Regions from separate parts of the Homo sapiens genome. Here region 1 is linked to region 2. Evidence: fine-mapped expression QTL. A gene starts in region 2. The other region holds a variant in brackets. All regions are shown on one strand. Distances are between the middles of the regions. Region 1 overlaps WFS1 (wolframin ER transmembrane glycoprotein). Region 2 holds the start of WFS1 (wolframin ER transmembrane glycoprotein).

Region 1 (5,429 bases), 25 kb before region 2:
GCCTAGGGCCAGCTCTGAGCAGACCATCAGTAAAAACCATGTGCTCCCTTGGTTCAAGTTCTTGGCCATCCTGGCCCATGTCTCAGAACCTCTGCAGACCGGTCGGTGTCATACCCTGGACATACAGCCTGTCCCAAGTGGGAGGAGCAGAGCCTTCCACCTGCCACCCTAAAGGACTCGCAGCTCTGGGCACTCGGGGGGCTCACACTCAGACCTGTCTGGCTCCGAGTCCCTGCAGCAGGGCTGCTGTGCCTGCTGCTCTTTGGGCTGAAGCTGCTCCTGCAGCACCTGGGTTCCTGCTCTTCCCCCCCACCGGAGGGCGGGCCTACTCTGACCTTCTCCCTGGCTCGAGGACGGTGACCTTTCAGCCTGCTGCCTGCCTGACAGTTGGTGGCCCAACCATCTCCTGGTCCTGGCCCTGACTCACGCGCCCATCTGAATACAATGATGGCAGTTCCTCCAGGTTCTCAGTCAGTTCAGAAGACAGAACCCCAGGGTGCCTGCATGATACTGCCCGCAGCCTCTGTGACAATCATCTGCTGGGGCCCCCTGTGCTGGCCTCAGCTTGGGGATCCTGGGTCAGGAGGCCAAGCTTCTGGAAATCCTGGTGTTCTCTGCAGAGTGAGACAGGCACACATCTAATTCAACCATGCGAGCTGAACTGTGAGCAACTCTGTGAGAGGCCATAGGGCCACATGGCCAAGAAAACAAGCTGTCAGGCCAGGAGTAGGGCCCGCACTGCTGGGCTTCCCGCTCCCCGCTCCCCGCTTTCCTCCTGCCGCCAAAGCTGCTCATGTCCTCCAGGTGTGCCCAATGGCACCCTGCACAAGTGTCACCCACCACGCTCCCACACTGGCCTCGCTCCCTGAGCCCTTGCAGATCCAGGGGCAGTAGGCGCCTCTGCACGTCCTCCCTGGCCTGACGGACACGGCACTTTGTTTTCGGGGAAGGCATCTTCAAGGCACTGGCCTCCACTCTGGACCATACATGGAGAAATCTGCTAAGTGATGAAGTCTAGATGAAAGTCTGCGTCCAGCCCGCCCCACTGCCCCCTACACTGCACAGAAAGACCCAGGGGCCCCTTGCTTGCCATCCTAGCACTCCTGCCCAACACCGCCCCTGGTTTCTGAGCCTGACGGCGCAGAAAAGAAAGGCCTCTCTCCCGAGGACACATCCTTATGACGATAGATGATGACCCAAAGGTACCAGCGGCACGGCTGTAAGACACTCTTTGTTAGGCGCGAACCTCCCCACCTGCAGCTTCCTGGAAGGTGCCCTGCCTGAGGTGCGCGAGTCCTTGGGAGGCAGGCTCCGGCCTGACCGGGGTCTTGGTCACTCACCTTCAGACGCAGTGGCAGGTCCTCAGGGCTCTTCCCCGCCAGCTCGTCATCATCTTCGTCGTCCTGCAGGAACAGGCTGCTGGGGATGACGCCCTTGGCGTACTTCTTAGTGATCTCCACAAAGTCATCCAGCGCGATGTAGTTCTTGGCTGAAGCATGAGAGAAAACAGCATGGGCGCCCCACACTGCAGCCCCACTGCCACCCTCACACAGAGCAATGGGCTGGGGACGGTGGCGTGGGGCCAAGCTAAGAAAGGAGCTGAGTGGGTTCAGGTGGAGGAAACCCTTCCCTGGGCGGCCTGAGGGTTGAGGACCAGGCTGGGTGAGGAGGAAGGGGGCAGGTTTGCCAAGTGCCAGCCTCCACTCCTGGCCCCCGGCCCCTGGGTGTGCTGTCCCCCACCCCAAGTGTCCCTCTCTGCCTAGCTCCTTATGCCTGGGGCCACTCACCCACACCTTTCACCCAGTTCACCTGCCAAGCCTTACAACATGCACCTCCAGTGCATGCTGACACCCTCCTCTTCAGCCAGCGTGGGGCTTCTCACAGCACGGGTGACAAGCCGCCCTGTAGGGCAGTACCCTGCCAACCGCTCCATCGAACATGATCTGCGCCCCCAACCCCTCCATTCAACGTGATCCACCCAGGGCCTACTGTGCACCTGCTAAACCGCTCCATCCAACATGATCTGCCACACACCTACTATGTGCCTGCTGACACCTCCATCCAACAAGTGTCTGCCATGGGCCTACTACATGCCTGCTAACCCGTCCATTCAACATGCGTCCTGCCATGGGCCGACTTACCCCTCCATCCAACATCTTCCACCAAGAGCCTGCTACGTGCCCACTGATCCCTCCATCCAACGTGATCCGCGAGAGCTACGTGCCCACTGACCCCTCTATCCAACATGATCCCCTAGGAGGGAATGAGGCCCCTGAAGGACCCCAGTTGCCGTGGTGAGATGGTGACCAGGAGGGCCTCCAGGGGAAGGATGGGAAAGAAAGGACCATGCTGGGGCAGGGCAGAGGGAGACAAGCCAGGGTGCTGCAGAAACCCTAGGGAGGA[G/A]GCAGGCTGCATCCAAGATGGCAGCCGTGATAGTGGGCGCTGACAGACCTCCTAATGGATCAGCTGTGTGTGCAAGAGGAGAGGAGTCGGGGCAGCACCCAGGTGTAGCTGCAGCAAAGAGATGAGGCAGCCTTGGGGGGGCCCACACAAGTGGCAGGTAGCACAGGCCTCAGTAGCTCACTGTAGACTGAGCTGTGAGGTGACCATGGGACAGCCAGGTACAGGAGATGTGGAAGGAGCACGGGCTGGATGCAGCCTGGGCGGGCTGGGGGCTTGCGGGTTCAGGACGGCGTCTGACACACGAGAGTGGTCACCAATGCCACCCACACATCTCCCTACCAGAGCACAGTCCCTACGGGAAGACCCTGGTCCCCACAAGGAAGGCCCCTGTCCTCATAGGGATGAATACCTTGGGCAGGATGTCCTGTCCTGAGAGACAGGACATCAGTCTAGGGACCCCAAGAAGGAGCAGCCAGTGTGGCAGCAAGGGCCCCGGGCCTGGTGGGGGAGAGGGCTCTAAGGAGAAGAGCAGTCATCTCTGCCCACGCTGCTGACAGATCAAGTCAGACAAGGACAAGAAGTGACTGAGCAAGGGGGGTCACTGATGGCCTAGACGAGCCGCTTTGGTGGAATAACATGGCAGAGGCCTGAGAGCAAAGGACGGAGGACGAGAGAAGGGGATGACAGACGCCCCTTTCTGGGAGTTCTGTTGGAAAAGCTGGCAGAGAAACAGATGATGCCTGATGGGAACGTTCTGATAGAGGGGAAACAATGGGGGTGCTGGGGCCCTGTCCCTGAGGGCCTGGCGGAGGGGACCACAGGCTGGCAGCGCTGACTCCTAACTCGCCCCCAGCAACAGCGACAGGGCCCAGCAGCAGGTGTGCCCGGCTCATCACAAACCCCTGTGGGACTGGGAAGTGAGGTTGGGGTCCAGACTCTGCCTGCAGTGCCCCCCAGGATGGAGACCCAGGCTGGGCTGCTCCTGCCCAGAGGCACCTCACTTCAGGACAGCAGGCACCATGCCACCTCGGTGGCAGGACACTGTCACAGCCTCTCTGGTCCTCGGGCTTCCTAGAGTCACAGATTTCTTCCCACTTCCATGTGAGGTGTTTCTTTGTCTCCCCCAAATGGAGCAGGAAAACAGCAGCGCAAGCACCCATGTCCGCCCACGCAGAGGCGAGGGCTCTGACCACACCCTATGGACGGTTTCCTCACGGGCCCAGTGGGAAGGTGGGATCTGTGCTCCCACCTGTACTCTGCCCTACATGCCACAGAGGCTTCTAGGATGGGCGAGGTCCTTCAGTCCCCTTGTCTGATCATCTCACTGTTCAGAAGGGGAAACTGACACCCAGAAAGAAAAATGAGACCTGCCCATGTCACAAGAAGAGTCTGTGGCAGACCTGGGTCTTGGCCCATCCCCCCATTGATACTGAGCCCCCAAGCCTCCTGCCTGTCTATCTTCTCCAGGACAGGAGCTCCCAGTGCCTCAGACTGCAGAGTCTACCCCACGTGGATGGAAGACAGTGAGGCTGGCCAGCTGCACGTGGAGGATGTGACGTCTCTTCTCAGTCTTTGACCACAAACATCCCAGAGGCACCCCCAGCTCAGTGTGCCCCAGAGACTCTATCCCCCAACCTAGGCTCTGCCCACTCTGTTCCCTGCCTACCTACAAAGGGCCTACGCTGGGGCAGAGCCCCTTCCACACCCTGCTGGGTCTCCTGGGCCTTTGCTCATGCTGTTCCCTCTGCCCGGAGCCCCTTCCCCTAATGCCCTCCTCATCCTTCCCCACTCAGGACCCCCCCGCCAGTCCCCACCCCCAGTATTTCCTTGTCCAAGAGGGACTGGCACATCATGGTTTCTGTCCTGGGTCTGCCTTCCCTCCAGTGCGTGCGCTCCAGGTGGGCAGGGTCTACTCCCAGCGTCCAGAACACTGAGCCCCAAACGGACCGCCTGAGATCCTAGCAGGGCCAGGATGGGGTCGCACAGGAAGGAGAGGTCGCCCTGCAGGCGCAGGCTGGGAGGCACGGGTGAGATAGGGCAGGCCAGGATGGAGTCGCACAGGAAGGAGAGGTCGCCCTGCAGGTGCAGGCTGGGAGGCATGGGTGAGACGGGGCAGGGGCTGCACTCACACTCGCTGCTGACCAGGCGCTCCAGCATGCGCCTCTGCTTCTGCAGGGACTTGGGCACGGGGCCTGGCTGCGCCCCTCCATCTGCAGGGGACAGGGTGGATTAACAGTCAGACAAGTTGACTATCTCCTCGTGCCCTGCAGCCCACCAGAAACTGGCGCACTGTTCCTAGGGCACGCCAGTTCCAGGGGCATCCTACGTTCTGGGGATCATAGGGCCCCCAGGGCAGGCAGAGCAGGGGCCACACCTCTGTACCTCCAGTAGCTGGGGTGGACTCAGCACCACGTAGCGTGCTCCCACTTGGTGATGGACACAGTCCGTCCCATTGGTAGACGTGGTCACAGAGCACTGGGCAGAATACCCTCTGGTTTATTCAATGAGTGAGCACTTGAGCCAGGGCAGATGCTGTCAAAATGCCACCCACACACCTCACCACTAGGGCACGGTCTCTACAGGAAGGTTCTGGTCCCCTGGTCCCCACAAGGAAGGGCCCTGTCCTCACAGGGAAGGTCCCGGCTCCTGTGGGAAGACCCAGCCCCTGAGGGAAGGTCCCAGCCCCTATGGGAAGGTCCTGGCTCCTGTGGGAAGGCTGGCGCCCAGGGAAGGCTGGTGCCCAGGGTGAATCCTCGCACCGTGCTCGTTGACCTGGCCGACATTCTCCAGCAGCTCCGCCACGGCCACCTGCTTCTTCTTCTTGGGGTTGAGCTTCCAGTACATGACCAGGGCTGCCTTGCGCACGGCCCTCTCCAGGTCGGTCTCGGAGGAGAGCTGCCTCACCTCCCGTTCGTTCTCGGACGTGATGCCTGAGGGATAGGATGTGGTCAAAGGCCTTGTGTGCCCTGCCTAGGCTTTCGGTGCCACTCTGACCCTGCCAACTCTGCCTGGAAGGCTTTCGAGCG
Region 2 (5,000 bases):
GAAGAACCAGCAGGGCTGCGTGCAGCCAGGCCCGGATCGGGACCAGGGAGGAGCCTGGGGGTCGTCCAGGGAGAGGCGAGGGTCCTGAACCAGGGCAGGCATCCGAGTGAGGCTCAGGAGCCAGGAGAGACCCAACTGGGAGTGAGGAATGAAGGGCACAGGGGGTGGTCTGGTTTGTGGCTGGGGCTGGCTGGCTGTGGTGGTACCACTTCCGGAAGTAGGGAAGTGGGAGGGGAGGGGAGCCGTGTAGGCATAAAGCTCCCGACCTATTATGATTCTTATTGCCACCGTCAAGGATGGGTGTTTCGGGTCTGTCTGGCAGTGCAGACATCTCTGGGGGTTGAGACTGAGCTGAGGTCCCCTCTGTGACCAGCCCCAGAAGCCTGTCCAGCACTGGTCCGGGATGGGCAGGGGAGGCCTAAGTCAGAGACGCCCTCCATGCTCTTCCATCCTGGGAAAGAAGGTGAGATGGGGTCTCCCAGCCAACTTTTCCTGTGTCTGCGAAGGGAGGACAAACCAGCAGGTAGGGAAAAGAGGCTGAAATGTGGAGAAGCCTCCCTCCAAATCCCTGGTTGGATACAACGGAGACCCCATGGGAATCACAGACCCTTGGACACAGAAGTAAACAGGTGGCGACAGTGACAAAGGTGGCCTCTGGGCTTCCCGTGGGCTCCCTCTCCTGCTGCAGAGAACAGGCAGCCAGCACATGGGGTACCCAGGGCACAGCTCCTTGAGTGATGGATGCTGGCATAAGAGAAAGCCCTTTACAAACTGCAAAGCCCTGGGCCAAATGCCAGGGGTCACTGTCCAAGGTGAGGAGAGACGGGGCTGCTTCTGGAGAGATAGGGCAGAGGCCTCACACCAGGCTCTGCCCCATCAGCTTCGTGGTCCTGGGCTGGCACCAAACCCTGCTGAGCCTCAGCTTCCTGGGGTGTCAAACGGGGACTATAACTTCTCCGCCTAAGGCTACTGAGAGGGTTAAATCTGGGTGGTGGGGGGTTGCACAAATGCGACTTCCTTGGAATTCATAACATCATCTGCTAAGTGGGTGAGAGGCCAGGGCGCCATCACATCCAAAAGGGCTGGGTAGGATTCTCCAGAAAGTTTTCGTTGATCAAACAAAAAGCTAATGATCCAGAGGGTGGAGTTCATACGAGGCAGGGTCCAGGTGCTGCCACTGAAACCCCTCAACTCTCTACTGAGGGGCCCCGAGAGAGAGAGGAACTGCCACAGCGCTCCTAAGTGGGCTGTGGGGATTCAGAATGACCCCTAAGCTGCCCCTCGGGCGGGCCGGGTCCCCCTGGGGGACTGAACCCCCCTTCCCCCCCACAACACCTCCCGGGGGCCCAGGCGCGTTCCAACGGCCGGGCGGGCACCGAGGGCGGCCGTGGGTCCCGGGACCGCGGGGGAGGGGCATGACGGGGCAACTCGGGGGGGATGGCGCGGGGCGCGGGGAGGGGGCCTGCCCGCCGGCCGCTCCGCCTCTCGGGCCTGCTGTCCCGCCCGCGGCGGGGCTCCAGGCGACAGCGCGCGGGGGACCGGGGCGCGCCCCCCGGGTGACCCGTTCGGGCCCGGAACAGGGGTCGCCTTGCGCGTTGCAGAGCGGGCGGGACCCCCGGCCCTCCAACTTCGGGGACCTTGTCGGGACTTTGGGGCCAGCCACCCATCAGCTCGGAAGGGGAAACTGAGGCCCGAAGAGGACAGTGCCTCAGGGCTCTTGCCCGCCTCCTGCGCGCTGCCCACAGCCACCGCGCCACTGCCCCAGCGCCGAAGTACTCACCGGCCCGTGAGTGGGCCGCACGCGGCGCTGCGACGCCCTGGGGCCTCTGGGCCGGCAGAAAAGTTGTTCGGGAGCAGCTGAACGCGGCGCAAACGGGAGATCTGCGGCCGCGGGGGAGCAATCTGCACTCGCTGCTGAAGAGCCGGCTAGCGCGGCCTTCTGCACGAGGGGGCGGGGCAGGGGCGGGGCCTTCGGCCTCCCTCCACTCCAGACGCGGCCCCCCGGATGCGGCGCCAGCTCGGCCTGCTGAGTGGCCGGTGTAGCCGCCAATCACTCCACATCTCCGCCAATCACGGTGCGCCTCGCCTAGCTGCGGCCCGGCACTCCCCCTGCGTGGTTGGGCCCGAGGGGCCAGAAGGCGGGTCCGGCTCGCCCACAGCGAAAGTTTCCGAGCGGACTCGGGCCCCGGCCCCGCCCCCGCCCCGCCCGCGGAACGTCCAGTTGCTTAGCGAGGCCGCTCGCCTTCTCCTGTAACAGGTGGTTTGGACCCGTGGAAAAGGCTCCGGCCACCTTTCATCCACCACTCCGGCCTCAGCGTCCCCAACTGCAGATTCATTATATTTGCTGTTGCAATATTAACACACGTCTTGAGCGCCTATTCCGGCGCTGCAAGAGAGTCTAAGGGCTCCCCTAATAACAGCAGCAGAGATGGAAAAATGGGGCCTGTTTGAAACGAGTGTCTGCAGCCAAGTACTGCTTTCAGTGCCCAGAATCAAATGCAGTGTAGCAAGCTTTTCACACGGTGACTGTGGGATTCCTTTAAAGTGTGTGTTAGCCCAGGGAGTGGGCAAGGCTCAGGCAGTTTGGAGACTCTGGGAGTTTGGTTCCTGTCTGGGAGGCGTGGTTTGGAGATGAGGGCGAGGGTCTATCCTTGAGAGGCCCTGGGGAACGTGAGACCCTGCCTGCTCTGTCTCTGGTCCCCACAACCAACCTGAGCTACCTGTCCTAGTTATCACAGCAGAAACTGGGGCTCGGAGTGACTGTCAGAGATAATGCTTACCAACATGTTGGGAGCAAATATTCCAGATGGCTTTGGAGATGAGTTCTGAACACACTACTTCGGAGGACTTTTGTCAAAGCGGCGTAGTTCATGTCAGTCACCTCATTTGATTCTCCAGCTGCCCCCACTGCCCACCCCCGATCCCCAATGTTCACGTGTGACCCTGTGAGGCTCACAGAGGAAGGAAGAACACCTGCCGTCAGCCTCGCCTGCTCTGTCCAGGTTGGCTTAGGGGCTTTCACAGCTTTCAAGGGCCCCCCTAGTGACCCAAGGAGGGAGGTGGCACTGAGCCCATTTTTTATTGATGTGAAAATTGAGGCTCAGACATAGTTATTTGCCCAAAGTCTTGAAGATGTCTTTCCACCTTATCACACACTAACTGTAGAAAATTTGGAGAATTACTAAAAGTAGAAAGGAGAAAAAAAATCACTCAAAGATGATCACTGTTCACATTGTGAGATTTATGCACATTTAAGAAAATAATAAATATTAATGTGAACACACAATCACAGAGAGGCTGAAGCACTTCCCAAACCCTTTGCAGGGGCTCATTAAGCAGAGAGAAGAGGACAGATTGAAAAGTTCCTCCTGTGGAGGTCTAAGGGAAGAGAGGAAGTGCAACAAAAAATCTACAAGATGGCTTAAGGAGCCTCTATCAGAACACAGCAACACTGAACATACTCCACGGAGCTAAGAGACTGAAAAAGCAACAGGCAAATTCAGAAAGAGAAGAGTGGAGGTGAGGACAAATGAGCAAACTGGAAGATAATGTGGAGTAAATGCTTCATGATGTAGAGGAAAAGCACATGAAAATCATCAGGACAAAAAGCAGAGACTGGAAAGACAGTTCCAGGAGGTGTATTGCACAAAGGACAGGTACTCCAGGAAGAGCTGGAGGGGAAACAGAGGTGAGCAAAGTGCCAGGAGAACGTGTCCCTGGAAATCCCAGATGCCAAGGATAAAGAGACGGTCTTGCAGAGTTCCAGAAAGAACAGGTCACATCTAAGGGGAGAAAAGTTGAAGTGGTTCCTAGGGGACTTTGGAGCAATGTCCAGGGACTCTGATGATAGGATCAAGGATCCTTACCATGGCTACTACAGGATTCATCTATGTGGACAAAAGAGAGAAAATATCCACTGTGGCAAGACAGAGAAAGGACCTCAGTGATGTCCCCTTTCAGAGGAAGATATTCAGAGTTCCCCCGTCACCGAGACAGTTCAATCACAGTAGAGATTTCAAGATAGAGCAAACGCTCAGAACAGGAAGTGGTGTTAAGCAATGACCCTTGCAAAATATACAGTATGGATAATCCACATGTGCCTGTGATTTTGTACTAGCAGTGCCACATAAGGATTCTTAAAACATAAGCTACATGCTTCAAGAGAAAGTTGTATTAGCCTGGAACTAAAAAAAAAAATAGAATCTTATCACAGAGAAGTCAGAATATTTTAAGATCACATTTGGTTGAGGGGAGAAGGAGGAAGTAAAAGGATCTGATTTGGTGAGTGGGGAAGGAAAGCCTTATTGGTGGTTGGGAGGGGTGCTTCATTACCATTTACTTTTAATACATTAGCAGGGAAAGATTGGTTTAATTATGACTCTCAGCTGGGGAAGGAAAGCCTTATTGGTGGTGGGGAGGGGGCTTCATTACCATTTACTTTTAATACATTATCAGGGAAAGATTGGTTGAATTATGACTCTCAGGAATTGGAAAGTAGCAACTCACGGGAAAGAAGCAGAGTAGAACTCCTGAATTACTAGGTAGAAGTTGGGGGAGGGGTGGAGGGAGAGTAAGGAAGCAAAATTAAGGGGGAAAGTAAATAATAGCAAGAACAATAAGCTTAATAATAGTAAACATAAGATGAGATAAAATAAATAAAGCCATGGCTACCCGCCTTCGTAACACGGTGAATGGGCTGAATTTCCCATCCAAAGTCTGTAAGATTGGGGCAAAAACTAAAGTCCAGTTAAGCGCTATTTACAAGAAACACACCAAAAATATTGAGAAGTAGAAGATCACAGCAGACATTTGAAAAATGGCAAATTACTATTGATAAGGAAGAACGCATGATGGAAAGCATTCACGGGAAGAGTGGTATTATGTAAGGGTGCCAGGCACAATCCACAAAGATTTCATTGTCATGAATCTGAATGAGCCAGAAAATCTAGTAGCCACACACTTAAAGCAGTAACTGCTAGAAATACTAGAACTTATTAAAA

Evidence for each region.
Region 1: its variant is fine-mapped to the expression of WFS1 in blood mononuclear cells (TOPMed, PIP above 0.99).

Annotation. Positions count from the first base shown.
Region 1 is chr4:6,291,101-6,296,529 of GRCh38, reverse strand. WFS1 (wolframin ER transmembrane glycoprotein) reads right to left here. Exons shown (of 8, transcript NM_006005.3): 5 at 5,163-5,333; 6 at 4,533-4,613; 7 at 1,341-1,489. Among named protein-coding and RNA genes, the nearest start is that of WFS1, 24 kb to the right of the region's middle. The variant G/A (reference allele first, on the strand shown) is at 2,404.
Region 2 is chr4:6,266,795-6,271,794 of GRCh38, reverse strand. WFS1 (wolframin ER transmembrane glycoprotein) reads right to left here and starts at 1,945. Exons shown (of 8, transcript NM_006005.3): 1 at 1,781-1,945. RefSeq lists a silencer at 1,858-1,967.